Homo sapiens: one gene and its partners. The protein of the gene in region 2 interacts with the protein of the main gene of each other region in a pairwise test. Each region holds a gene or a part of one and is shown on either strand. Other genes may lie near its edges.

Region 1 (7,759 bases), on a different chromosome or scaffold from region 2:
CGCAGTGGCTCACACCTGTAATCCCAACATTTTGGGAGGCCGAGGCAGAAGGTTCACTTGAGCCCAGGAGTTTTAGGTTGCAATGAGCCATGATCATGCCACTGCACTCCAACCTGGATGACAGAGTGAGTCCCGATCTCTAAAAGCAAAAGCAAAAACAAACCCAAACAAAACAATATACGGTTGACACATGACAACCATTTCCTATGGGCTAGTGGGAGGGGAATGCAGATAAAAGGGAATTTAAAAATGAAAAAAACAATACAGAAGAAAAACAAGTAACAAGGTTTTCTGTCTGTTCCTGGCCTTGGCAAGAGAGGTGTGTGGCTCCACGAGGACAGGGACCATATAAATTACTCACCCTCAATTCCCAGCACCAACACCCATGCTGAGGCACACAGTAGATGCTCAGTAAACATCTGGAATGATTCCATTAATCAATAAATGAACTGATGGAGAAAGGACTTTGCAGAGAGGCTGCTCTGGTATTTGGATAGCCCGTTGATTTTGGAGTCAAACAAGAGATTCCCATATCTGGTTGTGCCAGCACTTGCCAGCAAGATATTGGGCAAGACACCTTCTCTCGGAGCTTTAGCTTCCACATCTATAAATAACCTCATCTCTTATTTACAGATGTGGAAGCTGATGGATGTTATACCTTCAGAGGACTACTTGTAGTAGGTGCCCAACAAACATGCATCTCCACTCCTTGGTTATATGGAGTAGAGAAGAACCGCACTTCTAGGTGTTATTTTAGCTGTACCTGGAAGGCACCGTAATGCCTGCAGTAATGCCTGGAAATTTCACCATTATAGAGTCATTTTTTCCCTCTCATCAGGAAGGATTTATTGCTTTCTGAAACCTCCTGTGGGAATGCCCAGATCTCTGGAGAAAAGTTGCCTTCAACAGATTAGGCTTACAGAGGGGCCAGCTGAGAACCCTTTCTGACCCTAGGAACACCAGACTGAAGCAGGAGGGAATGTGATTGTTCACTGTCTCTCACACCCCAGGTCATTTGCACTTGCTGTTTCCTCCACCTGGAATGCATTTCCCTCATTCTCCCCATGGCTAGTCCCTTCTTATCTTTCAATCTCTATTAATCTCCTCTGAGACACCCTTCCTGACCACCCTGTGTAACACTAGCAGCTTGGTCTCTCTTTTTCCACCCCATCATGATGTTCCATTTCCTTTATAACAATCACTGTAGCCTGAAACTCTCTCTTTAAAAATTTACTTTTTTAGTTACCTGTCTTCCTCCACTGGTCTACAAGCTCAGAAAGGGGGGCGGGCTGAATTAGGGCAATAGGCCAGAAGTTTAGGTTTTAGTCTAAAGCAAGGGAAAGTCTTGGGAAGGTTTTAAGCAGATGAGAAACATGGTCCAACATTTCATGGTCCATGAAATGTAGCAGTTGTTTTGGTGGCCATGGGGAGAATGAACTGTAGGAGGCCAAGATGGGAGCCAGGCATGGGAGCCAGGGATGAGGCCAAGATGGGAGCCAAGTTGCAGGGAGGTTGCAGGGAGACAAGACGATGGTACCTTGGACAAGGGTCATGATGGTGGAGATGATAAGTGGACAAGTAAAAAATATATAATAATATTATGTGCAACTCTATGGAAATTATGGAAATGAACCCCTTAATTTTAGAAAGGAAGAAAAGGGCCAGAGAGGAACCTGTGTTGGAACACTGTATCTTGTTCAGTTTTTGTCCTCCAGGGCAGGGGAGCTCACTGCTGTACCCATCCCCGGCACTTTTTTTTTTCTTTTTTTTTTTTTGCAACAGGGTCTCACTTTGTTATCCAGGCTGAAATGCAGAGGTGCAATCACAGCTTATAGTGGCTTTGACCTCCTGGGCTCAAGTGATCCTCCTGCCTCAGCCTCCTGAGTAGCTGAGACCACAGGTAAGCAGCACCATGCCCAGCTAATTTTTTATTTTTTGGCAGAGATGGGTCTCACTATGTTGCCCAGGCTGGTCTCCAACTCCTGGGCTCAAGCCATCCTCCCGCCTCAGTCTCCCAAAGTGCTGAGATTACAGGCATGAGCCACTGTGCCCGGCCGCTGACACCTATTTACTTATCATGCAGTAAATGAATATTTGAAAGAATAAATGAGTAAACACAAGGCCCATCTGTGGCATCCTTAGAGAACCCTTGCCTGCCTCTCCAGGTACCTCCTCCAGTTTTCATTTCTGGGATTATGTGATGGGTTTTGCCTCCCCCACTGGATGGGGAGCTCCAGGGGGAAGACTTTCCCTTCACGGAGCCTGGCATTCTGCTTGCACATAGGAAGCTGTCAATAACCAGATGTCCAACTTAACATGAATAAATGAATGAATGAATGAATGAATGAATCACCAGACTATATAAACCAGCTCACTCTTCACCCTCTCTTCCCCATACCTCGCTTTATTTTTCTTCTTAGCGGTTATCACCACCTGCCACATTGCATATGTACTGATGTATTCATTGTCCGCCTCCGTCCCCCACCCCCGACCCCCCGCTAAAATCTAGAATGGAAGCTCATGAAAGCAAGGGCTATTTACAGTTCCGATCTGCCCCCTCCCACCCTCTGACCCTTCCTCCTGTTTCATTATTTCCCCCAGCGCTTGTCACCGCCTCATATATCCTTTCGCTTTTTTGTTTATGATCTGTTTCCAACCAGCTCCACGAGGGCCGGATGTTTGTGTTTGATTCACAGCTGTATCTCAGACGCCTGTCACCGTGCCCTGCACCGCGGCTCGCGCACAGGAGGCGTTCAACACACGTTGTTGACGGGACGAAGGAAGGCGGGATCGCGAGGCCAGCTGTGCAGGTGGCCTGGGTGGAGAGGGATGCACGGCCACGCGCGTCTCCTTGGCCCGATCCCGGAGCCCGCCCCCGGCCTCCCCGGCAGGCTGGGCCGGGCAGGCAGGAGTTAAGCCGCGCTCGCTTCCGACCCGCAGGTGGCGCCGTCCTGCCTTGGTGCCCGGCTCCGGGCGCTCCGAAGTGCGGGACAGAATAGCAGCGAGCGCGGAGCCGAAGCTCAGCCCCGACTTGTTGATCTCGCCCAGGCAGCCGCCGCCGCCGCCGCCGCGGGAGCAGGAGGAGGAGGAGGTGGAGGAGGTGCCGCGCGGCCGCGGTCCTGCCCCCGCGCCCCCGGCGCCCGCCGGCGCCCCCCGCCTCGGAGAGCGCGCCCCGGCCCCGCGGCGCCTGCAGCCCGGGCGAGTTGCCTGCCCGGCCGGGGTAGGCCCGGCTCAGCCCGGCCCCGGGACCGCCGCTGCCCACGGGCGGGGGCGCCCGGGCGGCCGGGACGATGCGCGGTCCCTGGCCCCAGGAGGCGGCCGCCCTGGGGGTGAGTGTTGGGGCGTACGGCCTTCCGTGGGGGTGCATGGGGACACGGACAGGGGGTTTGCCTGCCGCAGCTCGGCCTGTTGGTCTGCTCGGGCTCCGCAGCTCCAGGCTGGAGGGGAGCGGGGTGGGAGGCAGGCAAGGGCTGAGGCCTGAGGGGACGCGCAATCCCCATTCTGGGGCTAAGGCGTGAGCCCTACATGCAGGGGGTGCTCAGGGGAACCCCCCGAAATCACTAGTGCGCGGTAGGAGGATGGCACCTTTTGAAAAGGCCAGAAAATTTAGCTCATTTCCCCGCCTCCCACCTCCCCCACCCCTTCCCTTCCAAGCCCGGGGAAAGGCGCAGAACCCGGAGTTATAAAAAGCCATCGCGGGAGAGGAACGAGGAGGAGGAGTAGGAGGAGGAGGAGGAGGAGGAGGAAGAGGAGGAGGAGGGGGAGAAGGAAGAGGAGGGGGAGGAGAAGGAGGAGAAGGGGGCGGGGAAGGAGCGAGGGGAGGACGGAGCAGGCGGATCCCGAGGACTCTGCCCGCCCCTCCTGCGGTAGGGTTGGGGGCTCAGAGGGAGAGGCGAGAGCGGGCTTTTCCTCCTCGCGGCTCACCTTGTCGCTGGAGCAATCTCAGGAGATGCTCCAGTGTTTGGGAAGAGGGGTCGCTCCAGGACAGAGGGGCTGTTGTGCACACCCCGTCTGTTGTGACCTCGGACAGGTGGGCACCTGGAACCCCCGGAATTCCCCCAAATCTTTTAAGATTTGGAAAAAAGCCCGCTGCCATTCCCCCACCCCCAAAATCTTGATTATCTCGAGAAGGGGAAGGAAAAGAAGAGAACTCGTTAAAAAAAAAAAAAAGAAGGAAAGAAGAAGAAGAAAGAAAGAAAAAGATAAAGAAAGAAAGTTTTCATGCAGCTCCCCCTCTCTCCCCATGGCGGGGCCAGGTTCGGGACTCGATCGGGAGACCCATAATGAAGAGAGTTTCAGCACTCTAAGGGGCGGACAGCGCCCCGGGCGGCTGGGTCGCGCCTGGGCCGCAGAAGCCCAGGGTGGGGCCTCCCGGGCTCCAGGGGCATCTCTTGGGGCCCTCTCCCCGCCCCGAGGGGCGGCCCCTCCCTCCATCCATGGGGTGCGGCGGACTTCAGCACCGGCGGGAGGGACAGCGACCATCCGTCCTACCCCACTGAGCCGCTTAAGCGCGGGGGAAGGTCAAGGCCGGCTGGGAGCCTGGTGGAGAGGTGGGGGGCGGGGGGACAGCATGCCCAGCTCCCCGTTTGCTGACCCGCGTCCGCTTTCGCTTTCTGCCTCGCAGCCGTCGGGATGGAGGTGAGAAGACGGCCGTGACGCGCGCCCGCGGGGCCCCCTGCACCCCCAGCAGCCCACAGCGCTCCCTGCCCCCCTCCCCCGCAGCAGCGGGCCTTGCCGTCGAGTGACAGCGGCCTGGGGGGGCAGGGGGGGCGGGGGCGGCCGGATCAGCGATGCCGGCGGGCATGACGAAGCATGGCTCCCGCTCCACCAGCTCGCTGCCGCCCGAGCCCATGGAGATCGTGCGCAGCAAGGCGTGCTCTCGGCGGGTCCGCCTCAACGTCGGGGGGCTGGCGCACGAGGTACTCTGGCGTACCCTGGACCGCCTGCCCCGCACGCGGCTGGGCAAGCTCCGCGACTGCAACACGCACGACTCGCTGCTCGAGGTGTGCGATGACTACAGCCTCGACGACAACGAGTACTTCTTTGACCGCCACCCGGGCGCCTTCACCTCCATCCTCAACTTCTACCGCACTGGGCGACTGCACATGATGGAGGAGATGTGCGCGCTCAGCTTCAGCCAAGAGCTCGACTACTGGGGCATCGACGAGATCTACCTGGAGTCCTGCTGCCAGGCCCGCTACCACCAGAAGAAAGAGCAGATGAACGAGGAGCTCAAGCGTGAGGCCGAGACCCTACGGGAGCGGGAAGGCGAGGAGTTCGATAACACGTGCTGCGCAGAGAAGAGGAAAAAACTCTGGGACCTACTGGAGAAGCCCAATTCCTCTGTGGCTGCCAAGGTGAGTCTGGGATCTGGGGGCTGCTGGTCTGGGGGGATCTGCTTGCATCCCCATATTGAGGACCACTGCTGGAGGACTCTGGCTTTGTTCCCAACGATGAAGATTAGTAATGGGGAGGGGCTAGGACTGAGTCCCCAGAGGTGAGGACCAACCCCCTCAGACTTTTCCCATGTGGCACTGGTCACTCCATCTTTTTATTATCCAAGACGTTATACCCCTACTTGGTTGGAGAGGTTTCACAGGGACCCATAAAAAGCCACAGCAAGAAGATGGACACTGACGAATAAGAGAGAGAGCACAGAGAGACAACAGTGGCTTGCTGGGGTGGAGTAGGGTTTGCTTCCCTGTGAAGTCCCAGACCTAGGCTGGATTGGATCACCCTGTGATTTTAATATCTCCATATTTATAACCTCACTCTGCCCCAGCAAGGGAAAAAAGCAGCTTACAGACATGCTTACAGGACATTGAGATACTGTCAGATAGTTTAAACATAAGTAAGAAGGGACCCCGAGGGGTGGGTGTGGACCCACACGACACATGCAGTTGGTTGTGGATGCTTGCGGGTGAGGGGTCACCCCCTGGTTACTTATTTATTTGGTGAGTTTATTTCCAGAATGGTTTGGTGCAGCTTGTAAAGATGTTTCAGCTCTTGGAACAAGATGTAAATTTCAAAATAGGAGAGAAAAATGAGGCAATGTGAAAAATAAAGGAGGAGGAGGAGGAGGAGGCAGGAATGAGTTTGAACACAAAGAGTGGGCCAGAGAGTCTTTGGTGCTGCTGGGTAATGGCAGGGGCTGTAGGGGACTGAGGAAGGCTTGGGGTGGGAGCCAAGGCAGGGCAGGAGGGCACTGGTTGATCAGCAACTTCTCTACGTCAGGCTGGGATTTGGGGTTGCCTGGGAAAGATGGGGCCTGTCTTCATGTGCCCGAAGTGCTGGGTGCTGGGAGCAAATGACAAAACAGTGTGTGCAAGGCTATAAAAGAGGTTCTGTGAGGTTCACGGAGAACCCAGAAAAGAGAGATGTTGATGTTGAAATCCAGCAAGACCAACTTGGGAAACATGGGGAGAATGTAACTGAGTGTGGGGCCTAAAAAAAGGGGTCAGGTAAGTAGATTTGTGGTAAAAGAAAGAGGAGAGGAGGAAGCCTAAATATCCAGCCATATCTTACTAGCTAGGGCTGACTCCTGTCCAGCCCAGCCTTTCATTGTGGGGTCTCCGGCTCAGTTCTCACTGAAGGCCCACCTGCAGGTCCCAGTCTGAAGGGAGACTCCGTGGGGTCCTTCCTCCAGATCTAGCCACCCAAGGAGAGGCCCCTGAGAGTGGATGGAGAAGGGGTGGCTGGTAAGAGGGTGGAGGGAGCCCCCACGTGTTTTTTTCGTTTCCCTGTTGGCCCTAACAAGGATGTAGAGGCTCCTGGGCCTGGCTTCCTCCTCTGAGGCTGTGGGCTGTCTCTCTCCATAATCCCGCCCCCAATTTTGTGTCCAAAAAGCCTCCTCCTAAGACAGAGTCACTCACCCTTAATCAGCTTAGGATCAACAGACTTATTTTGCTATTTCCAGGCATGACACAGGTTCTCCCACTGCACATCCCATTTAGGCCCAAATGTGACTCTCCCTCCCTGTCCCATCCCTAAGACATGAGAACAAGGTACAGGGAACTGGACAATTTGCCCTCCCAGAGAAGAAGCAGGCACAGGGCCATGTTTTGGTCTGGCAGCAAGACCCAAGCACCGGGGCTTGCAAGAGGTGCTGTTTGGGAATAAAGAACCTCTCCTCTCCCTTGGGTTAATCCGCTAGCAGGGACAGCCTTGTGACCTCTCCATGATCCCAGTCTGGGGCTGCCAGCTCACATTCCTGGCAGATGGACCATCTAGGATTTTCTGTAGCCAGAGCTGAAATGGGGAGGGAGGCAGGCTCACTGGCCCTCAGAATAGAAATCCTGGCTGCCAATGATCAAACACCTACTGTGTATGGAGTGTAACAACGCAGCTCTGTTATTATCCCACCTTTCGCAAACAGTGAGGCTGAAAGAGGTTAAGTAACTTGCCTAAGGTCACACCACAGGCAGTCAGGAGTAGCCAGAAATCCAAACCGAGTGTTCTTTCTATAATGATCAAGTGCCGCAGCCTCCTCCCCAGTCTCCCGGCTTCCACTTTTGCCCCTGCAATCCATTCCCCACATAGCAGCCAAAGTGAGCTTTTCAAAATGTAAATTGGATCACATTATTCATCTGCTTAAAATCCTCCAGAAGTTTCCCATCACACTCAAAATAAAATTCAGACTTTTCATCCTGGCATACAAGGCCCAGGCAGAATCTGGCCCCCATGACCTCTCTGGGCTCATCTCTTTTGATCTCCTCTGGTTCACTTGGCTCCAGCCCCACTGGCCTTGCTGTTCCATAAA
Region 2 (7,345 bases):
TACGTCAAGTGAGCCTGTGGGGATATTATGGCCCTTCTGACGCTCGGCCACTCAAGGTGCCTGAGTCAGCACCAGCATGGACCCCAGCTCTGGGAGAAGAGGCCTGGCTCCTACTAGCAAGGAGCTATACAGTGTGTGCACCCTGCTGAGTGCTCTCAGACAGTGGTTGCTCAATAAATGTTTGCTTGGCTTTGTGTACCCCAACTCTAGACGGCTTTGTGTACCCCAACTCTAGACAGCTTTTTGTCAGATCTAAGAAAGAAAGAGTTAAAGGTGGTTGCAGGGCCTGCGCGTTTCCTCTTAGTCATCCTTCAGGGACCAGAGGCTGAGGGAGAGACTCACCAGGGTCATCCCCCACTCCAATCCCAGGCAGCACCTAGGAGGGCTGAGTCTGGCTGGAAGTGTGAGTACAGGCAGAGAGGTGCACAGGAAGCTGGTGTGTGTGGCCATGCTCATGTGTGAGCACAAGTCCATGCACAGGGGACAGCAGAGTAGCAGTGACCTCACCATCCATCCATCCAGGGGTTCTGAGAGCCTGGTCAGCAGACCTGGGTCAGGCTGCCCATGTCAGAATCACCTGGGAGTTTGCTGCAAATGCCAGTTTCTAGCCCTGCCACGGGAAATTCTCACTCACTAGAGAACCTCTTCAGTGGGTTCTGACGTGTAGCCAGATTTCAGAACCATTGATCTGATACAACCAAGGAAGGATATAACTTTCCCAAGGTCACACAGTGACTGGTCAGTGGCAGAGCTAGGACCACTCCAAGCCAGTGCTCTTTCTACTGCTGAGCATTTCAGACTGGGGACGTGTGTCTGAACCCAAGAGAAAATCATCTAAATCCTTTTTGATACATCCATAGATTTCAATGACTCACACCTCAGCCCCTGCTCATTTATGCAAACCACTGAGGACTGACATTACATATGTATTTTTATTCCACAATCTGAGTTCTTTTAAGTAAATGTGCTCCCACTTGGGTGCCCTCCCCACATCGTCTTGCTGTCAGGACACCAGCAAGTCCATTCCCCTCCTAGGCCTGCCTTTCCCCCATGCGTGCTGCTGAGACCCCAAGGGGACAACTCCTCAAACTCTAGCTAGGACCAGGCCAAGGGGAGAACAGGTTAGGCACGAGAAGAGCTGGGCCTTCTTTTAATGTAACCCAGAAGAGGTGGTCGACTATCCTGACTCACGTCAGATTCCAGGGGTATTGGTTTTTCAAACCAAGTTGAAAATAATTACTCAGAAATCCCTGTAGCTTAAGGATCTGAGTGTCAATTCCATTCAGCTCAACAACCATTTAAGTCTTCCCAGGCTCAGGGCTGTTGGCTTGGTGCGACCTCAGAGGGATGCCAAGTTGGATGAGCAAGGCACAGCAGCATCCCTGCCCTCCAGGTGTCCTCTGTCTCTAGGTTGCAATAAGTCATGAGCTTCTCAGCATTCTGAGCAACATGTCAGGCTAGAAAAATATATGCCCCTGTGGGCTGGCAGGACTCTAGCTGGATCCAGGAAGGATCTGGACTTATCCCATTACCAGTGCCTTGAACCCATGCCAGGAACAGAGTAGTTTTCTATCACCAGGGCTGGGCCTTTTGCAGTGGAACAACCTCTCCAGACAGACCCCAGCACCTCTCTGTTGGTGTGGTCCCTGACTAAGGATCTGTGATGTGAAAAAAGAAGGCAAGAGCCAATGAGCAGTTGTCCTCATTGCAAAAATGTTTATCTCAGGGGTACTTTTAAATGTCAGCTCTCTGAGCTCATGTAAGAGTTCAAAAAATAAAATCAGCCAGGAAGAGATGATGAAATCAGTATGAGGTCAGCCTGCAATGAGGATGAGTGAAAAATGGAAGTCCTTTAGGGTTTTATTTTCACACCATCCTTCAGGAGCCTATGTGTGGTGCATAGAGAAGTTACCTGTGATCTCTTTTTCTCTCTCCCCATTAAACCACAAACATTAGAAGCAGATTTTTGGAGGGAGGGCAATATGCATCACTTCTTTTGGCTTCACAAACAGGGGGATGGCTATAGCCACAAAGTTTGGATTGATCCTGGCCTGTCCACCAGGGGGTAATGCATCTGCAATGGAGTCCTCAAATCTCAAATTCCAGGGGTTCAGTGAATGAGTTAGAGACAAGAGGTCCCCTTCAGTTGGAACAGGAAACAACTGACCATCTGTTAGGGCTATACACAAATACAGAGAGCATCCTATACCCTACACATTGATATAATTTTAGTGTTTTCCAGACGGGGTTCTTTCATTCAAAAGAGTGGATCTGGGGGAACTGGCTTAAGAAATGCTGCATATAATGTCTTCCCCTTAGACATTCGTAAGGCACATTAGCATGTTAAGGCTCTGAGAAGTCCTGCAGTAAAGCAACCCATTTAACATTGCAGTGTGACTCAAACTTACCTAACCTTGGAACTTTTCCCCCTCATAGTACCTATTAGAGCATCATGGAATACTTTGGACACACTTGTTCCCTAGACCTCCATCCATCACCTGTCCAGTACAGGGAGCATCCTGAGTTAGGGAGTTGGGAGTCATGCCCATCGTTCCCAGGATACACTCTTGCCATGGGGAGCTGTGGAGCATCTCCAAGCAGACGGAGAGCTGCTGTGGCTGGTGCTGGTGGCACAGACCTCATTGTCATGAGTCATACAACCACTCCTGCCCACTTAGATCTAAAATACTTGGCAAAATGCGTGGTCATGGCTGCCTCTGAGACAGACTCCGTGACTAACTTCTCCAGAAAAGCAGTCGAAGTTAGTAAGCAGAGCCCTTGACTCCAGGTCAGCAAAGCTGTCAGACCACATCAGCTCTGTAAAAACTCCTTTTGCCTTGTCCCCTGGGGGTTGCTGGTTTTACCCCTCTGATTCTCAAAGGAAGAACCAGGCATTTCTGCAGGGTAGGAAGCTCGTCCCTGGCTCACCTGTCCATTGGTTGAGACAGTGATGTTCAGGGGGCTGCCTAGCACACAGGATGATGGAGGGCAGCCTAAGATGACACTTTGGAAAAAAAGCCTGCACAGATCCAGAGACCCATGGTTCCACCAACAGGCCCTGTCATTGAGTGTCTGAACTGCCCACGTCGACCACTCAGTCAGAACACCTGAATACGCTGGCTGGTTCAGTCCAGGATTCTGACCCATGGGGCCTCTGGGTGACAAGCACAATATAGCCACACCCTCAAAGAGGAACTCCCACTTCCCCTCCCAAATGTCCACCATGAATTATGTTAAGCCTTTGCTGTACAGCCTCTTGGGATCCGTTTTGCGTTGACTCCTCAATATCTGAAGAACTTCCTTTTCATAAGTCTTAGAACATCTCAAGTCTCAGAGGCTGCCCCTGACCTTTGATGTTGAGGGAGATGTGTGTCCAGGCCAAACCCTGCTTTTTATAACATTGACTATGACCTCTGTGATTTCTTCTTTCCAGGAAGAAGATATTCTCCCACGGATTCATTAGCCAATATTTATGTGTTCTACATTCCACAAATATTTACTGAGGGCCTGCTAGGTACCAGGCACTTCAAACAGCTGGAAATTGGGAACAAAATGGAAAATCATTGCTCTTTTAGGGCAAATAATAAGCAAAAATTTAAAAAGTAAAAAATACAGTGTGACCTCCAAAGTACTGTTCTAAACCCTCAGGGACCTTTTAGGGGGATAAGATATGTTTGTGTTCAGGAATTGTTGCTTACAAGGAATAGACTCACCCAAACTTGCTCAAGTGAAAAAGGGGGATAGTGTTAGGAATCAGATATCCTGCAGATATAAAGGGCAGGAAAAGAGCAATGAGCTCTAAAAGCCATCATCTCTCTTGGGTACATTCACATTCTCACCCATTTCTCTCCTTCCCCTTTTCTGCATTCCTTCCCTCCATTCCACCTTCCTTCCTATTCCCTTATTCTCTCCTCTCCTCTCTAAGAAGGCATGTGAGTAGGCAGAAGAAAGTTGGCCTCCCTACTACAAATAGATAAAAGATAGAGAGTAACTAGGACAGAAGAACAGTCTGACCATAGAAAGGGCCATTGGAGTTGGGAGGTAGGAGGATAACTTAGAGCACATTGGAATCAGGGAAGACTTTCTGGAAGAGGTGCATTTGCGCTGGGTCTTGGTGTGAACAGGATTTGGATGCTCAATGGAGAGCAGAGGCCATTCCCAGAACAGAGCACAGTGTGTACAGAGGCATCCAACTCAGAGCACAGAGTGAAAAGGGTCCCAATCACTCTACTTATCACTTTCCCATCCCCCATGAGGCCTTTAGTTGGGTTTCTCTGGCCCTCTTCAGGGTGGACAGGATTCTCCTGAGTCCCATTTCTTGGATCTGCAAGGCAGACTATAGGGGCAGTTGGGGTACAGCTAAGGAGGGGACCAGAGGAGGCAGGGATGGGAGAAATGCTGCCCAGTGGAGGTCAGAAAGCCACATACTGGAACCCAGGTAATAGCTGGAAGATTTAACCATCCATCCACCTGTGTAGTGACCTCAGTGTAAAGTCAGCCAGTGACAGAAACTTTAACCAAGAAGTTAGAGCATAGACGTGGGCCTCTAGTCTGCCAGCGATTTGCTGATGGATTCCTAGCATCAAGCAATTAACCGTTTATTTGGCTTCTCTGTGTTGGGCACTATAAAACAATCATCTTGTTGGTCATACCTGAGAACCTGCTGGTGATAGCATGGGGCAGGGCCTCTTGGAGGAGGTAGGGTGAGTTGCTTGTCATCTTCATCTGGGGGCTGTGAAAGGTCAAGGACAACAGGAGCCATTTAAGCATCTCCAGTGGGCCAGTGATTTCATATAAGTCATCTTGTATCAGCTTTATACCAAGTCTGAAAAGTAGAGATTTTCCTCACTTTTTAAGGAGGAAGCTGAGACTCAGAAGTTAAGATACCTCTGTGAGGTTCCACAGTCAAGTAATGGGGCTGGGACTTAAACTTAGTTCTTTCTGACCCCAAACCCCTGCTCCTGGCATGCCACCACGTGTGCCTCCCCAAGACTGGCGGTCCTGTGGCAAGTCCCTGGGACAGGTTTTGGGTGGGTCTAAGTGGCCTGCCCAGGGCACAGAGTTTTCCAGATTGGATGATGAGAAAGCTGCTGTTCTCCCTTACCGCAGGCCTCTCCTCTAATTCTACACAATCTCAATACCTCTAGTCCTCAAATCAGAAATTTACACTAAAAAGACAACCTATTGCAGGTTGCCTCTCACGAATTCAAACATGATATGGGTCAAAACACGTCCCAGAGTCTAACTGCCACATGCAATGTAAGCTAGAAATTTTGGGGCTTTCCCATAGTCAGATGCTGACCCAGGGGAAGGCCCTGTAAGCTGTGGCTTATGCTGCACTCAGGGCCAAATTCATGAGTCTGTTTTGCTGATGGTCCATCCTCTGCGTGAAGTATTGTCACCATTAGTCATTACCTGCTGGCCACCTAACGGATCTGGGGTTTGATACCTTGGGTACAAGTCCCTTCTAGGCAACTTACCTGTTATGTGATATTTAGCCACCCTGAGCTGTGGTTTACCTTATCTCTGAAATGGGGATAATAACAGTTGTTCCAGTGACCTTACAGTGCTGTCAAAAGGAATACATGAAGTAGCATTAAAGTGCCTTGTGACCTGCAAAGCACTGTCCAAGTGATGGGTATTATTGTTAGGACAAGTTTATGTTCAACTTTACAGATGTTAGTCTACTGTAAGCTCCCCAAGACAAGGACTTCCGTGTGAGAATGACTTTTACTTTTCACAGCCAACCACATTCACTTAGGGTCCAGATCTGTGGGTGGCATTGGAAACCTTAGCTGTAGCCTTGCCTGGGGACTTTCTTGCCCTGAAGTGTGGTTTTAGGCCAGAGATGCTCAAACTTTTGTGCAGAGATACTAATGGAGTAGGTCTGAAGTGGGGCCAGAAAAGTGATATTTGAAAGGCTCATCAGATGCTGCTGAATTGCAGACAAGGATGGATTTAAGGGAGGCCAGGCACAGAGGCTAGGACAGTCCCCTGGGAAGATGCTCTTTGGATTCTTCAGCCTCCTGGCATGTGGAGAGGGGAAAAAATGGGATGTGTTCCTCTTGAAGGGAATGACAAAGGGAGTCAATTCCCTGCTGTTGGAAAGCTGGGAGCCAGTGTCAAGAAAAGGAGGGTGATGTCAGTCATAGAGAAAAGCCTCATGAGGCCTTGTAGGCTGTGAGCCCCAGCCTCTTGGTGGCAGGTGGACTGGAAGCAGAGGGCCAAGATAGGCAGAAGGGCTGAGCTGGGCTGCTGCAGCCAGCATGTGGCTAACACGCCATGTCATTCTCTCTCTCTCTCTCTCCAGATTGTGTTCCGGAAGATCAGCGATGTGAAACGTGAAGAGGAAGAACGCATGAAACGAAAGAATGAGGCCCCCCTGATCTTGCCCCCGGACCACCCTGTCCGGCGCCTCTTCCAGAGATTCCGACAGCAGAAAGAGGCCAGGCTGGCAGCTGAGAGAGGGGGCCGGGACCTGGATGACCTAGATGTGGAGAAGGGCAATGTCCTTACAGAGCATGCCTCCGCCAACCACAGCCTCGTGAAGGCCAGCGTGGTCACCGTGCGTGAGAGTCCTGCCACGCCCGTATCCTTCCAGGCAGCCTCCACCTCCGGGGTGCCAGACCACGCAAAGCTACAGGCGCCAGGGTCCGAGTGCCTGGGCCCCAAGGGGGGCGGGGGCGATTGTGCCAAGCGCAAAAGCTGGGCCCGCTTCAAAGATGCTTGCGGGAAGAGTGAGGACTGGAACAAGGTGTCCAAGGCTGAGTCGATGGAGACACTTCCCGAGAGGACAAAAGCGTCAGGCGAGGCCACACTGAAGAAGACAGACTCGTGTGACAGTGGCATCACCAAGAGCGACTTGCGCCTGGACAACGTGGGTGAGGCCAGGAGTCCCCAGGATCGGAGTCCCATCCTGGCAGAGGTCAAGCATTCGTTCTACCCCATCCCTGAGCAGACGCTGCAGGCCACAGTCCTGGAGGTGAGGCACGAGCTGAAGGAGGACATCAAGGCCTTAAACGCCAAAATGACCAATATTGAGAAACAGCTCTCTGAGATACTCAGGATATTAACTTCCAGAAGATCCTCTCAGTCTCCTCAGGAGTTGTTTGAAATATCGAGGCCACAGTCCCCAGAATCAGAGAGAGACATTTTTGGAGCCAGCTGAGAGGTCTATTTAAAAAAAAAGTCAGAGACAGATACCTCCAACCCTGCCGTCACCACCACCCCTACCACATATGTCCACATGACCAACAATTTTCAAGTAGGCTTTTCCTAACAGAAAAAGTGGGGCCAGTGGCTTAGACGTGCTCTTTCTCTATCTGGAAAAAGATATGGGAAGGGT
Region 3 (8,116 bases), on a different chromosome or scaffold from region 2:
ACTTACCAGATCTGATCCCTCAATTCTAACACTTTTCCTTTCTATGTCCCAATAAAATTGCCACAAATAAATGAACACTCCAACCCTATTCTTGTCTCAGCAAATAATTTGTTGAGCAACCTTAAGAATTAAAAAGGCAAAAAAACTGGCTAGACAGGTGGCTCATGACCATAATCCCAGCACTTTGGAAGGCCGAGCAGGCAGATCACGTGAGGCCAGGAGTTCAAGACCAGTCTGGGCTACATGGCGAGACCCTGTCTCTACCAAAAAAAAAGGGCAAAAAAACCGAACTTTCTCTAGGTGCTGAGGTATTCTGCTGAGAATCTACAAAACTTCAAAGCCCCTAGTGAGGGCTTAGAGACTGGCAGTAAGGACCTTAGCTGTTAATGTGGATGTTAACTGGGCTAGACTCTTCTGTGTTTCTGTTTCCACACGGGAGCAGGGCCTCAGAGAGGAGTCTACCAGTACTGCGAAGGTGAAGCACTAGTGCAAAGGTGTTTAGGTCAAGTTCAGTGTCACTCGCAGGTCTAAGCCAAACTAAAATTATTCAGTCTAGCAATCCATCCCTTCCTTTTTGTTCTAGACTCCATGCTGATAGGAGAAAAACAGCACATCACAAACATTTGTGAAACTTTTTCAGCTACACAGCCCTTCCGCTTCTCTTTTAAGACTCTGCTATTCCTCTATCAGAATGGCAAGAAGGATGTGGGTAGATATAGTATGACTAAGCCCTGTAGATGATTCTGTTAGAGCTACTGCTTTTAAAGGGTTTCATAAAACCCTGTCTTTAGAAAACCTCTCCATATAACAACAGGCAGTAGGCACTCATGTCCTCTCAGCCCATCTAAATGGGGCTTCTAGAGGAATTACAAAATCCAGGCAGGTAAAGAGAAGTAGCTGCATGCACACAGTCGTCATAAGAGAAAATTCCCAAATAAATGGTCCAAGTACCTATAACTGTTAGCTCAATAAACACTTGGTTTTATCTGCTTTTACAATTTGCAAGGCTGTATAGAGGCTGTATAGTACATACTTCAGACAAATAAAGAAGGAGTTTCAGAATTCTTTTGTTTTTTTTTTCAGACAGGGTCTCGCTCTGTTGTTCAGTCTGGAGGGCAGTGGTGCAATCTCCGCTCACTGCATCCTCGACCACTGCCCCCCACCTCTCACCCCGGCAACCTCCCGGGCGAGGATCGCTCAAGGATCTCAAACGATCCTCCCACCTCAGCCTCCTAAGTAGCTTGGACTACAAGCCCACCACCACGCCTGGCTACATTTTGTTTTTTTGTGTGTTTTTTTTGTTTTTTGTTTTTTTCGTAGAGACAGAGTTTCCCTATGTTGCCCCCAGGTTGGTCTCGAACTCCTGGGCTCAAGTAATCCTTCCACTTCGGCCTCCCAAAGTGCTGGGATTACAGGCATGAGCCACCGCACCTGACCTTAGAATTATTTTATATCAAAGTTGACTTATTCACATGATGAATGGCAAGGCCTTATTAGGGACTAAAAAAATAAACCAATGGATGGGGAAGAAAATCATACTGACTAATAAACATTAGACCTGCATAACTGCCAAAGGCCTCACTTTTTAAGTTATGTTATGCAGCACAGAGTCTTCAGATTTTATTTACTTATTTATTTATTTATTTATTCATTTATTTGAGACGGACTCTCGCTCTCTCGCCCAGGCTGGAGTGCAGTGGCGCGATCTCGGCTCACTGCACACTCCGCCTCCCGGGGTTCACGCCACGCTCCTGCCTCAGCCTCCAGAGTAGCTGGGACTACAGGCGCCCGCCACCACGCCCAGCTATTTTTTTGTATTTTTAGTAGAGACGGGGTTTCACCATATTAGCCAAGATGGTCTCGATCTCCTGACCTCGTGATCCGCCCGCCTTGACCTCCCAAAGTGCTGGGATTACAGGCGTGAGCCACTGTGTCCGGCCCAGATTTTATTTTAGTCTACCAGGTAGTAGCAAACTATCCAAGGACTTGCCCAGGACCATTCAGGTCAGTGAGCTACAGAATCTAGTTCTGGAAAGGCAGCCATTCTTACTATTCACAAAGTGTAGAAAACGTGAATTCAGATTCCAGCAGCAACAAATGACTGGAGCACAAAACGCCAGCCACAGTTGGTGCTAACGCAGCTGGCTATCAGCTCCACAGGATGAAGCACTGTCCAAGGGTCTGATCAGTGAAGCATCACCCAAGACTGATGAACACAGCTGATATGAGGGGACCCAAAGTTCCCTGAGTCAAGACAGAAGAGCTGTGTCACGGTTTGCACAGAAAGAGAAAGAGCAACTATTCTTACCCACGGAAAGAAAAAGGGAGAAGGCCATCAATACTACCCTTAGGCTTGTGCAACGAGAAACTGCTAAAAATGGGGGGAAGGTATATATCCTATCATACTGATGTTTACCGAAGACTCCGCATCCCAAATGCTAAGCAACATACTGTAGGGCCTTGCTACTCAGTGTGTGGTCTGCGTGCCAGAGGCTTCAGCCTCGTCTGGAATCTAGTTAGGAACACAGTTATCTCAGAACCCACCCCAGTCCTACAGAATCAGAATCTCTAAGCGATTCGCAGGCACATCAAAGTGTGATGAGAGGCGCGGCAGAATATCTGACTACATTCTCTTAACAGCACCGTGAGACAAGTACTGTTACGATCTCCATTTCACAGAGGAAAAAAAATCAAGGGTCAGATAAGCCCCCTGCCAAAGATCACAAACTCAGGAGCGGCGAGAGTCACTGAAGTTCTCACCACAGCCAGGCCTGCGAGAGGCACTGGCAACCCAGGCCAAGAGCTGAACAAGGCCTCGATGCGCTCCAGCTCTGGGCCGGCCGGGAGGACAGGAGGCACAGGCCAAGGCCCAGGACGGTCGTGAACGCGGAAAGAGGCCGCCGCGACCTCCTCCCCGGCCGCCGCCACTCACCTGATCCTCCCGAAGGTGGGCGCCGCAACACCAAACCGGGGACGCCGCGGGCGGCGGCGACACAGATACTGGCTCCTCCGGCGACTCCGAGCCTCACAGCCCCACTTCCGGCCAACTGCCCGCTACTTCCGCCTGCTGCGCGAGTGACGGATGCGGCCGAGGCTCAAAAGACTCTGTCAGCGTTTCCCAAGGACATTTTCCACTGGAGGACGTTGTTGAGGAGGCAGGGGGAGTCTAGGACCTGCAGAGGGAAAACACCTTCCTGGATGGATCGCTCTGGAAGTCATTAAGCAGCTTAGTCCCGGCGCGGTGGCTCACGCCTGTAATCCCAGTACTTTGGGAGGCCAAGGCGGGCGGATCACCTGAGTTCAGGAGTTCGAGACCAGCCTGGCTAACGTGGTGAAACCCCCGTCTCTACTAAAAATACAAAAATTAGCCGGGCGTGGTGGCGCACGCCTATAATCCAGCTATTCAGGAAGCGGAAGCAGGAGAGTCGCTTGAACCCGGGAGGCGGAGGTTGCAGTGAGCCGATATCTCGCCACTGTACTCCAGTCTGGGCACCCCTGTACTCCAGCTCTGGGACACAGAGCGAGACTCCATCTAAAAAAAAAAAAAAAAAAAAAAAAGTAAGTAGCTTAGACACATGTTCAAATCTGAGGACCACCACTCAGGGTTTTATGGCCTTGGAGAAGTCACATAAATTCATTCTTGTTATATTATTATTATTATTTTCATAGAGACGGGGATGGCAGTGTCTTCCTATGTTGCCCAGGCTAGTCTCGAACTCCTGGGCTCATGCAATACTGCCGCCTCAGCCTCCGAAAGTACTGGGATTACAGGTATGAGCCATCGCACCCGGCCCACATAAATTCTCTAAGCCTGTACAGTGAGAAAAACAATACATTTTTTTTTTTTTTGAGACAAAGTCTTGCCCCATTGCCCAGGCTGGGGTGCAATGGTGCAATCATGGCTCACTGCAGCCTCAACCTCCTGGGTTCAAGTGATCCTCCTGCCTCAGCCTCCTGAGTAGCTAAGACCACAGGCATGCACCACCACACCTGTCTAATTTTAACAATGCATTGGTCGGGTGTGGTGGCTCACACCTGTAATCCCCGGTGTTGGAGACCGGCCTGGCCAACATGGTGAAACCTCGTCTCTACTAAAAATACAAAAAAAAATTAGCGGGGCATGGTGGCGTGCACCTGTAACCCCAGCTACTTGGGAGGCTAAGGCAGGAGAATCACTTGAACGCAGGAGGTAGAGGTTGCAGTGAGCCGAGATTGCACCACTGCACTCCAGCCGGGGCAACAGTGAGACTCCATCTTTTTTTTTTTTTAATGCATTTATAATAGAGATGTATCTGTAAAGTGCTCTCAGGAAAAGAGCTAGTGACATGATGGATAGATGAGCCTGCTGAGAGAAATGGATGTGGAGCTGGGGCTTAGCGAGGCCAGAGCTATGGAGCATGAGCCAGGGTGATTCTCCACCACCCTAAGAAGGAGGGCTGGGTCCTACTGGGTACATATATTGACACAGCTGTCAGTATAGGTACCTAGACAAGAAAGAGACTCTACTAAACCTCTACCTATCAGAAAGTCCTGGCCCCAGGCTGCCATTCCTGAGGGCACTTGAGATCTGCTGATCAGGGTCTTCATATCTTGTCAATGCCTTGGCTCTAAGGGGTGTGAAGGAGAGCTGAGAAATCATGCTCCCTCCAGGGCCTATCTTGTAGGGAAGACAAAATCAATGTAGGAAGAACACGTCCCTGCCAGGAGGGGCAAGCCTGACATCCCAACTCCTGAGCTCTGGAGACAGCGCTGTTTGAATATCTGGAGCCCCAGACCACAGACACCACTGCTTAGGGAGGGTTCTCTCCCTCAGGCCAGACCAGGGCAAACACTATTCATTGTTATGACTCTGTCCTTGCCAGTAGAACCCAGAGAAAGCAGAGAGCCTGCCCCCAAGGAATGAACCATGTTTGTTCCTAGGCAGCCATGACAATCCTGTTTCTCTTTGTAATACTCAAATTCCCATTCTCCCTTGAAGTGGGAGGAGCATGTGGCTCAGTTCTGGCCAACAGGACTTAAAGGGAAGGGTCCTGGGAGGGCTCTGGGAAAGCTTTTACTTTTCATGATAAAGTAGGGCCGCCTCAATGTCTTCATGGAGCTGTGGCAGCCACTTTGTGGTAAGGAGGGAACAACATGCCAAGGATGGAACAGTGGGAGGATGAAAATCTAGGTCCCCGAGGATCCAACAACCATGACACCACCTCCGGATTTCTTGTCAGGTTGGGGAAAAATAAACCACTCTTTGAGGTCCTTTGATTACTTACAGCAGAGTGCATTCTTGATTGTGTGCTTTGAGAGGATGACAGAGGAACTGTTGTAAAGGGAAGCTCTCTGCTGTGCAGCACGCTTGGGTCCCTTTTGCCTTTGGGGCTTCGCCATTAATTGCAAACCTGTTCCCAGTCTTCACTTCTATCCATTCAGCCCGCAAACATCTACCAGTTGCTGTAAGGTGGCTTAGGCGACTGCAGGCTGCATCTAGCTGTCCTGCGTCACCTGTTTTCTGGCTAGCAGCTTAGTGTCCAGATTCTGAGCTGGAGCCAGCTTTTAACCCCTTTGGCAACAGTCTGAGCTGAAGAGAAAGCCCCACTGGGCATATACATGGCACCACGACTCTTCCCGGGCAACGTGGCAGAACTTGGGCTTTGGGCCAACCTCCTAGCACGGCCCAGTGAGCACCTCCAGTCTCATGCCTCCTCTGGGAAATCTGTTTACTCCAGCTTTGCCCCCATCCCCCACCCGGGCCTCACCTCCCGCACCTGCAAAGACACAAGCAGGCCAAAGAATACCACTCAAGAGGCTTTTTCCGTTTTATTTCTTTGGGAAAGGAAAACAAAAAGTCTTTCCATCACATATGGTAGAGATATATATTTATATATATTTATATATAATTTCTTTTGTGGTTGGACGTCCCAAAGCTGAGTCTGTTCATATTTTTTTCTATTTTTTTCTTACTAATGCCTTCTCTTCTCCCTGCCCCTGTGGCCTAGGCCCAGGTTCTAGGGCAGGTACAGTGAGGGGTGAATGGAATGGGCAGTGGTCGCCAGGATGGCCTCCCACCCAGCTCAGAGACCTGGTGAGGACCACCCAGAAGGGCTGTGCAGAGGGTTAGAGGCCACACAGAGGGGCACTCATGTTTTTGTGGGGGATGCACAGCTCATTAAACAGTCACCAGTCATGGGAGGAGGCTGGTCAGGGGCTAGGGGACTTGCTCACAGTAGTTGCCAGCTCTCTCCACCTTGCCCCCCAAAACTCAGTCTTGGGGGTGGGAGGAAGAGAGTGAAAAAGAGAGAGATATAAGGGCTGAGGGCCAAGCCTCCTCCAATTTTTATTGCTGGTGAATTAGAAATTTGCTTTTCCCTTCCTGTCTTGGGGAGATAGACTCTGAGAGGGCCCCAAGAGAAGCAGCTGACATTGGCTGACCTAACCCCTCATGCCAGGCCTACCCTGGGCAGGTGCTGAGCCACCTCAGGGCGCCAGGAACCTCTCAGGTCAGCCTTGTTCTTCAAGGGCAATCACATCCAACTCTCCCCCCGCCCCCAAAACAAGGGCCTCCGGCTCAGACTTGGGCCAGTGGAGCTGGGAAGTGGGCAGTGCACCAAAGGTCAAGCGGAATTTTCTATTGGAAGAAAAGGTGAGACTTTGGGGAAGAGACTGCCTAGGAAGATGATGTGCTGAGCATGAAAGCAGAAAGAGGCTGGGGGAATAGAGTGCGGGAAGACATCGCAGACACTCGTCTGACCTCAGAAACTGGGCGAGGAGAGTGCCTGAGAGGCAGGTAGCACTTAATAGCTGTGTTAGAGCCGGACAGTGGTCCTGGGTGTGGGGTCAGCCAAGCAGATGGGGCTGTTGCCCTGCGGGATCCTGGCCAGAAGGGTGAGGGTAGAGCCGAGAAGCCGTCAGGCAACGCTTCCCAAGAACAGGAGGACAGATCTTCCCTGGGTGCTGGACTTCCAGCCCCAGTCCTCCCCTCCCGCAACACACACACAGGGACACACACTCACAACCAGGCCAGGCTCTGAGGCCTGAGTCCAAGAGATCTTGTTGGGGGAGGGGCTGGGCAGGTAGCCCTCTCAGCCAAAGGCAGGCCATCTGCTCCCACTTGTCCTGCCAATCTGCCCAGGGAGGGAGAGCACTGTAGGAGGGAGAGAGGTCTGGAGCCCAGGCTCTGTCAGTTTCAGCAAACCTGGTGCAGGCCCCCTCAGGCTCCATGGCCTAGGAGGTGAGCACAGAGAGCATCACTAGACACAGGGTGGCCAACAGTAGCAGCCCAGGCCTCCAGAAGGACTGGGGCACCTTATGGCACTGCACGTCTGCTGCCTCCATCTCCAACAAGGGGGTGCCGAGAAAGGGAGCATGACTCCCCCACCACCTAGGATTGCCCCCACTCACCCTGCCCTCCTCCTATTCCCTCCTTTTAGGGGGGTCCAAGTGGGCTGCCACGGGGGCAGTGCTGGAGCTAGGAGGGCAGGTGGGGAGGGAGGAACCTGGTCACAGCTGCTTAGAGAACCTCTTTGGTCTGGGGTTATGGGGTCTATGGGGAAGAGAGATGGAGGGGAGGGGACACTGGGGACTCTGGCCTTTTGACAGGACATGTGTCAAAATGCCGAGTGCCCAGGTCGATCAGATTTCTGTGGACTCAATGCGCTCGAGGCGGGAGGGGGTCCAGGCCTTCTTCTCCTCGCCATGCTGGGGAGTGGGCGTGCTTGCACCCCCTGCGGCCCCGCGCTCCCGCAGCCTGCGCTCCAGCTGCTGGTTGCGCTGGTACATCTCCACGTAGCTCAGCTGCAGCTGCTTCTGGTACTCGATCACCTTCTCCTTCTCCTCCAGCCACACGCGGCGCTCCTCGGCGAAGCTGGCACCCTGGCGCTCCCGGGCCCGCCGCTCAGCCGCCAGCTCGGCCTGCAGCCGCCCCACCTCCCGCCGCAGGGCCCGCGTCCCGCTCTCCCCGCCAGCCTCCGCCTCCCCGTCCACGGAAACCAAGGAGGCGGCAGCGGCCACCCCGGCCTGACGGCGCATCTTAGCCTCGTCGCTCTCGCAGGTGGCCAGAGCATCCTGTGGCTCGGCCGGGTCCACGGGGGTCAGCGCCGGCTTGAGGCAGGCGGCAGGCAGCTCGCCT
Region 4 (7,174 bases), on a different chromosome or scaffold from region 2:
AGAGGCTTCTACCGACACCTAGTGGACAGAGGCCTGCTAAATATCCTGCAATGCACAGTACAGCACCCGGCCCCAACCCTGGCAAAGGATTACATCTGAGCCAAGATGTCAACAGTGCAGAAGTTGAGAAACCCTGGTCTAGACACCTTCCAAGAGTATTCTTCACCTTGGCCCCTTTCTGGACTTCCCATGGCCTAAGCCATGTTGGTGCCCCTGCCCCAGAGTTTCCAAGAAGGAACAGCTAGCTGTATACCTCGCTGCAGCTCAGCCCAGGTTACCAGGGTCACTGCTCAACCTACAGATCTGTGGCCAAGGTCGCCAATTTCCCACTACGGCATCTCTGGATTCAATCTTCCCTGACCATTGGAGGCAGGCGGTATGGTCTAGGGAGGGGATGTCTGCCACCCCCACGGCTTACCATCAGAGCAGGGTTACTATCCTCAAAGCCTTCTCGGTCAATACCCAGCTTAGGTTAGTTCCCAGCCATGGCCACAAGATGGCACCCCAGCCCACCAGGAGGGCTGAGGCTCTGGGCCTGGGAGAGCAGCATGGAGGATGTGCCAACCTGGACAAAAGCCTAGGGGCTGGACTTGGGCCAGTTCCAGAGCTTAGCAGGACCAGATCTAAGGCCTGCAAGTGCCAGGTGGGAAAACATAGGCCAAACTTGGCTTCAGAACTCCCTTCACCTTTTTTTTAGTCCACTCCCAACACCAGCTTATATTCTAGCCTTTCCTACATGAAGCTTACTGAAGCCCAGCAATCCCTCCTTGGGCCTAAACAAGAGAAATTCTAGAACTTAGATGTTAAGGATACAGGAGTTATTATTATTATTTCAATACAACAGTAAAAGCAAAAAACGAGGCACAGAGAAGTTGAGTAACTTGCCCAAGGTCACAGCTAGTCAGTACTGGAGCTGGGATTTGAATCCAGGCAGTCTGGTTTTAAAGTCTGTGCTCTTAGCCACTGAACATACCACACCACAACTGCTCCCACCCCCACCAGCCCCAGCTACCAAAGACCCTCTGGCACCAGACCACAAGCTTTCTTCTGCAAGGGAGGGGCAAATGGCTGCGAATAGGAGGTGCTGCTCCAAAGTGGAAAAGGAGTGAGGTTTTCAGTCTAGCTGGGGGTCTGTCGTTAGTGTTTGCGAGTGAGAAGCTAGGGAATGGTTAGTCATTCTTCCTCCTATTTCCCCCCAAAACCCTCTGTTTCTCTGTTTTCTGGTTTTTGGTTTTTGTTGATTTCTTCTGTGTTGCCCTCTTGGTTTTCCTAGGCTGTTTGCAAATGCTAGCATTCTCGCAGTGTGAAGGGGAAGTGAGAGAAGAAAGTTTGATGTCCTGTTCAGGATCCACAAGGGAGGCCATTCTTTGGGGCCTGGGCTGGGGGTGTGTCATCAGGGATCAAAGTGAGAATCCTAAAGTGGAACAGTGTGGGGCACATTGGGAACAGCTACCCTCTCCTGCTGGGGAGGCTCCTGTGTCTGAGTTTTCTCTGCTTACCTCTTGGGGGATTTTAGGGTGTAATGGGCTTTAGGGTGCAATGAATACCCTTTCACATTCCTTCTGCCTCCAACCCTGGCCTACCTCCCTCTTTCTAACACATCGTCCAGAGCCCCTAATCACCCAACCTTCTGCCTACCAGGAGCCCCTTGTTTCTCTCTGTCTCTCTGTGCCCCCTCCCCAACTGCCTGGGTCACACTGCAGCCCCCTATTAGGACTCGCCATGGCGTAGTGATGGGGCCCTGCACTGATTCCCTAAAAAACCCTGGGTAAGTCCCTCCTCCTGACTTGGTCTCCATTAGGTGTTCCAGACTCCCACAGTCTCTGCCACTTGGGTTCTAGGATCCCAGCCTCTCTCCTAGCCTTTCTCAAATCATCTGGACCTTAGTGAGGATCTACTGTATTCTGGGCACTCTGGAGGGAAGCAAACAAGAAGCCCTGGAGGAGCTGATGGTCCTTTTATGGAGATCAGATGAGCTATGGAGAAGATCAGGAGCCATACTCTGATCCCGTGTGGTTCTGCAGGTGAAGAGAGAGGTGAAGTCCTGGAACCCTATGGCTAGTAGAATCCCAGAAGATTCTTGGGTGAGAAGAGGGGCTGGACATCTGGGTAGAAAGAAAGGAAGGTTTGGAGAGGCTGCTTTCTTGTCTCTCCCCATCTTGATTTCTCCCAGCTGTGTGTGTGTGTGTGTGTGTGTGTGTGTGTGTGTGTGTGTGTGTGTGTATGTGTCTGCCTCTGTGTCCACCTTTTTCTCTTCCTTCTGGATTCTCCATTTCTATTTCATCTTCTACCAATGTTGGGACAGAATTTCCTGAGAACCCATGTCCCGGGGATCTGAATATGGGCCAGGATGGGCCACACCAGGCCGGGCCACACCAGGCCAGGCTTCCTTGTGGTTAGGAGATGGGGACTCACACTGGTCAGGGTGAAAGGGACACTCAAAATCACTCTCATCCCTGCATTACTCTGAGATTGAAGGGGAAACAGCTCCTATTTAGAGGAATCACACAGATCAATATCTGGAGGGAGGAGGTGCCATGCAGGCCCCAAAATCCAACCCTCTCTTTGTCTCTGCCCAACTCTGCCCATTTCTGACTTAATTTAGCCTCTCTGTCTCTCCCCTTGTCCTATTCCCATCTGTCAATCCTTGCCCTGCCCCTCTCCACCCCTTCAAGCCTTTTACCCACCACACACAGATTTTCCTGTGGCTAGATTGGGATTCCCCTGGCCAAGTAAGGAGAGCGATGTCTGTGGCACAGCTTTGTCCCCAGGCTCACAACGGCATCTGTGGGTCAGGGTAGAGGGACAGCTGTCTGCACAGTTAGAAAGTGCCAGCAGTAATAAAAGCCTCATATCTTCTTAATTAAATCGCCCTTTGCCCAGGCATCCTGTGTTCGATTGGGTTGAGCTGGGATCAATAAGCCTCTTTCCCACCCCAGCCACCCCTGGAGACGGGCCTGACCTCCCCAGTCCTGCCTAGGCCCACCTGGCCACCTCCCCAGAAGGCTGGGAGCTTCTCAAGGCCAGAGGCTGGGTCAGATTCATCTCTTGTGTCCTTGTGCCTGGGACGGATCCTGAAACAAGTAAGGAGTAAAGGAGTGATTGCTTTACTGAGTAAACCAAGGCACTAGCAGCAGGCATGGGCCAGGAAGGCTTTGAGGTTCAAACTGGAACTCCCACCCCCAGGACCAACTGTGAAGATGGAGGAATCACAGCAAGCAGCAGCTCCCACCCAGCTCCCAGACATAACACCAGCTTATCACCCAGGGCAGTTGAAGCCCTAGGAAGTGCGGGGTGGGGGTGTCAGTGCTCAGGGAAACTACGAGCAGTTGCTGCTTCTGACCTCTGAGGGCAGAAGGTCCTTTTCATAAGGGGTCTCCACCTAGGGATCCAGGGTTAGTGTGGGAGAGTCCGTGAGCTTGGATGGATGTGGCACTCATGGGAGACTCCCTCTGTCTGAAGCTATAAAGGGCCCAGGGTCAGTAAGGAGTCCAAAGGGGTTAATAGGGGTCCAGGATTGATTGTTAGTGGAGGGCGTAGAGGATAACGTGGTGTGTGTGTGTGTGTGTGTGTGTTGGGGTTCATGCAAGACATTACCCATGGAAGGAACATGGGGCCTCCAGGTTCCGCGAGAAGGGTCGGTATTAAAGGATTCCTTGGAGCGGTCAGCACTGGTCCGGGCCAGGGTGTCTCTGATGACAAAACTCCGGGAGAGCTTTGTCTCACCAGGGATCAGATGGTCCCTGGTTTGGAAGGCAAGGGGAGGGTGCCAACGCCCTTCTCACCTCAGTCTGACCCGGGGGCGCGGGCCCAGACGTCTCTCGGAGCCCCCGCCCCTGGAGTGGCGTTCCCCGAGGGCGGACCGTGGGCGGGTCCCCCGGGAGCAGCAGGAGCCGCGCGGGGCGGGCGCCCCCAGCGCCGAGGTTGAGGGAGGCCGGGCTCGGTGCGGGGCTGGGAGGGGGGCGCGGAATCAGGGCTTTTTAGGACCCAGCGCGGCGCCTTCCTCCGGGGGCGAGTGCGGCTGCGCGCGCCGTGTGCCCGTGTCCGGAGAGCGGCGGGCTGGACGCGGACCGCGCGAACGAGCAGGCGACGGGCGAGCAGCAAGCGGAGCAGCAGCCCGGGCGGCAGCAGCGTCGCGGCGGCGGCGGCAGCGGCCGCTCCGCGCCTCGCCTCACCGGCCTCGCTGGCCTCACCTCGCCGCGCCCGGACCCGCCACCCCCGCCTCCCCGCCCGACCTCCGCAGCCCCCGTCTCGGCCGGCAGCGCCCACCGCCTGCCCGAAGCGAGGAGCGGAGTGCGGGGCGCAGAGGCACCGGAGCCAGTGCCCGCCGGCCCCGCAAATCAAACCCAGCCAGGAGAACCCCCGCCTGGCCCCGTGCAGCTCCGCGACCGCCGGGAGCTGTCCCTTCAGCACCGCCGCGGGAGCCCAAGTCCGAGCGCAGCCCAGCGGAACCCCAGCTCGAGCCCGGGCTCACGGAGAGCAGCGCTCGGCGTTAGCCGCACGAGCAACACCCCGGGTGCCCCTGCCCAGGGGGCCCGCCATCTCCTCCAGGAGGCGGGGAGAAGGAACGAGGAGGGCGGGCGGGCAGGCGGGCCCGCCGCCGGGGGGAGCAGGCAGCCAAGCAAGGAGAGAGGGAGGGGGCCGGAGCCCGCCCTGCGTCCCGAGCTGCAGCCCGGCCACGCAGGGAGGAAGGCAGGCGGCATCCATCTCCCCCGCGCCGAGAGCGCGCCGCGGCGACCACCTCACAGAGGAGCGCGAATTTCCCGGCCCTGTCTCCTCCCCTCCCCCTCCTGGGGGCTGGCCTCTAGTCCGGCCCCGGGAGCGGCTGACCTTTCCCCCAAAAGCTTTGTGCCGATTTCTCCATTTTCCCGCGGAGATGGGGACGGGAGCCCGGCCCCCCAACCCATTTTCCCCACCTCCCGGGGCTCGCTGCTGAGCCCGCCCCCCTCCCTCTTTCCCCCTCACTCCCTCCCTCCCTCCCTTTCTCCCTCCCTTTCTCCCTCCCTTCTTTCCTCCTCTGCCTCCTCCGCTGCCGGACCAGCTCCCTCCCACATCTGGCTCCTAGAGACCCCTGGGATCCCGCGCACATTCCCCTGGACCGGCACCCGACAAAGCGCCCGGAGAGGCTTGGCTCGCTCGTTGGGGTGGCCAGAGCCGCAGGCCTCTGTTCCCCCCGACGGCTGGGGGGAGGGGGGAAGAGGGCGCGCGCCCCCCTCCCCGGCGCCAACTCCCCCTGGCGGCCGCTCCCATGGGTGTCGCTGGGCCGCGCCATGCCTAAGGGGGCGCCGCGATGGGCCAAGGGGACGAGAGCGAGCGCATCGTGATCAACGTGGGCGGCACGCGCCACCAGACGTACCGCTCGACCCTGCGCACGCTGCCCGGCACGCGGCTCGCCTGGCTGGCGGAGCCCGACGCCCACAGCCACTTCGACTATGACCCGCGTGCTGACGAGTTCTTCTTCGACCGCCACCCCGGCGTCTTCGCGCACATCCTGAACTACTACCGCACGGGCAAGCTGCACTGCCCAGCCGACGTGTGCGGGCCGCTCTACGAGGAGGAGCTGGCCTTCTGGGGCATCGACGAGACCGACGTGGAGCCCTGCTGCTGGATGACGTACCGCCAGCACCGCGACGCCGAGGAGGCTCTGGACAGCTTCGGCGGCGCTCCTCTGGACAACAGCGCCGACGACGCGGACGCCGACGGCCCTGGCGACTCGGGCGACGGCGAGGACGAGCTGGAGATGACCAAGCGCCTGGCGCTCAGTGACTCCCCGGATGGCCGGCCTGGCGGCTTTTGGCGCCGCTGGCAGCCGCGCATCTGGGCGCTCTTCGAGGACCCGTACTCGTCCCGCTACGCGCGGGTAAGTGACAATTTACCCATCAGAAGAGCGGGGCGGGAAGGCAGCGTCCTGTGCCTCCCCGCGGGCAGGGGTGGACCGGAGAACTGGCGCCTAGGGAGTTCAGAATCGAAAGGGGGTGTGTGCGCATGTGTGCACGTACCAGGGTAAGAGAGGAAGGGTGTCCGCCGGGGTTCTGGTTTTCTATGTATGTCAGTCTGTGTGTTGCCAAGTTTAATATGTATGAGTATGAATGGGTGTGTTTGTGTGTATGAGTAGATTGTGTGTGCATATTTATGTAAGTGTGGTGGTGTGTATTTGGGTGGGTAAAGTGTGGAGTGGGAATGAGTGAGCATGTGTGTATGTTCGAGTGTGCATGAGCGCCTGCCCGTGAACATTTGTGTCTTTGCAGAGGTGCACTGTCAAAGTATGGACTGCTCTCGAGATTTCAGTGTGGGGAGGGAAGCTGGGAGCCCTTCCTCCTGTCCAGGTAAAGGCGCATCTGGAGCCAGCCATGGTCCCCCAAAAAGGCCTGAGGCCTGCTGGGCAGCTTGAGACAGACACCCCCTCCTCAGGGAGCAGCCTCCGGCAATTTTGAGGAAGTGGTCAAGAGGGCATCTCCATGGCTAATCTCGGTGGCTTGGAAGTTGGTGGAGGGCTGGGCTGTAAGGTAGGGGTGGTCCGTCTGAGCCCCCGATCCTGAGATCACAGCCTGTCCTTCCTCCTTGTCGAAAGCGGAGGGTGTTGGAGTGGGTCACTGGGCTTATGCCAGTGCTTCCTCTGGGACATCCCGTGGTGGGGAGAGGGGGTCGGTCCTTAAGGGTCCTTAAGGGGGAACCTGCAAGGAGAAGGTGTGTGAGAGGTGGGCGTGTCTTCATGGGCCACTCCCCTATAGCCATACCAGCTTGTTCCTAGGAAGAAAGGACACGCTGCTGCTGACCTTGGTCCCTCAGATGGCCTCTCTGGATCAGTTTCCTTATCTGTAAAATGGGGGAGGGGGCCTGGTGAACTCTTAAGGGCCTTGCTGCTGGAACATCAGTGACTGAGCCCAAAAAGAGGAACTGGTAGCAGCCACCCACCCTGGAAGAGACACTCCCAGCCTTCACTGGGCTCTGTCCTTAGAGGCCTAAAGAGAGACCCTAAGGCCTGTGGGGGAAGGGCAGAGTAGAGAATTTAAAGCAGAGCCCCTCCTGCATCCCTGAGCTGCCCTCACCCCCTACCAGGCAAAGCACTGCCTCTGCCCTGCTGTCTTTTACTCCGCATCTCTCCCCTCCTGCGCACTGGAGCCTGAGCCAGAGCCAGGGGTAGAGGGCTAGGGAGGGGTAGGAAGTTGCAGAG

Evidence for each region.
Region 1: the proteins of KCNH1 (region 2) and KCNB1 interact in a two-hybrid assay, tested with the Homo sapiens proteins (one study listed by BioGRID).
Region 3: the proteins of KCNH1 (region 2) and FASTKD5 interact in binary tests that used the Homo sapiens proteins (3 or more experiments, as listed by UniProt).
Region 4: the proteins of KCNH1 (region 2) and KCNC1 interact in a two-hybrid assay, tested with the Homo sapiens proteins (one study listed by BioGRID).

Annotation. Positions count from the first base shown.
Region 1 is NC_000020.11:49,479,512-49,487,270, reverse strand, and holds the start of KCNB1 (potassium voltage-gated channel subfamily B member 1), read left to right. Parts: upstream 1-4,602; 5' UTR 4,603-4,790; coding exon 4,791-5,357; intron 5,358-7,759. UniProt on the Homo sapiens protein: Voltage-gated potassium channel that mediates transmembrane potassium transport in excitable membranes, primarily in the brain, but also in the pancreas and cardiovascular system.
Region 2 is NC_000001.11:210,683,104-210,690,448, reverse strand, and holds part of KCNH1 (voltage-gated delayed rectifier potassium channel KCNH1), read left to right. Parts: intron 1-6,310; coding exon 6,311-7,168; 3' UTR 7,169-7,345. UniProt on the Homo sapiens protein: Pore-forming (alpha) subunit of a voltage-gated delayed rectifier potassium channel that mediates outward-rectifying potassium currents which, on depolarization, reaches a steady-state level and do not inactivate.
Region 3 is NC_000020.11:3,156,834-3,164,949, forward strand, and holds the start of FASTKD5 (FAST kinase domain-containing protein 5, mitochondrial), read right to left. Parts: upstream 3,033-8,116; 5' UTR 2,933-3,032; intron 1-2,932. Other genes in the region: LZTS3 (leucine zipper putative tumor suppressor 3), read right to left, coding at 7,621-8,116. UniProt on the Homo sapiens protein: Plays an important role in the processing of non-canonical mitochondrial mRNA precursors.
Region 4 is NC_000011.10:17,730,713-17,737,886, forward strand, and holds the start of KCNC1 (voltage-gated potassium channel KCNC1), read left to right. Parts: upstream 1-4,068; 5' UTR 4,069-5,290; coding exon 5,291-5,860; intron 5,861-7,174.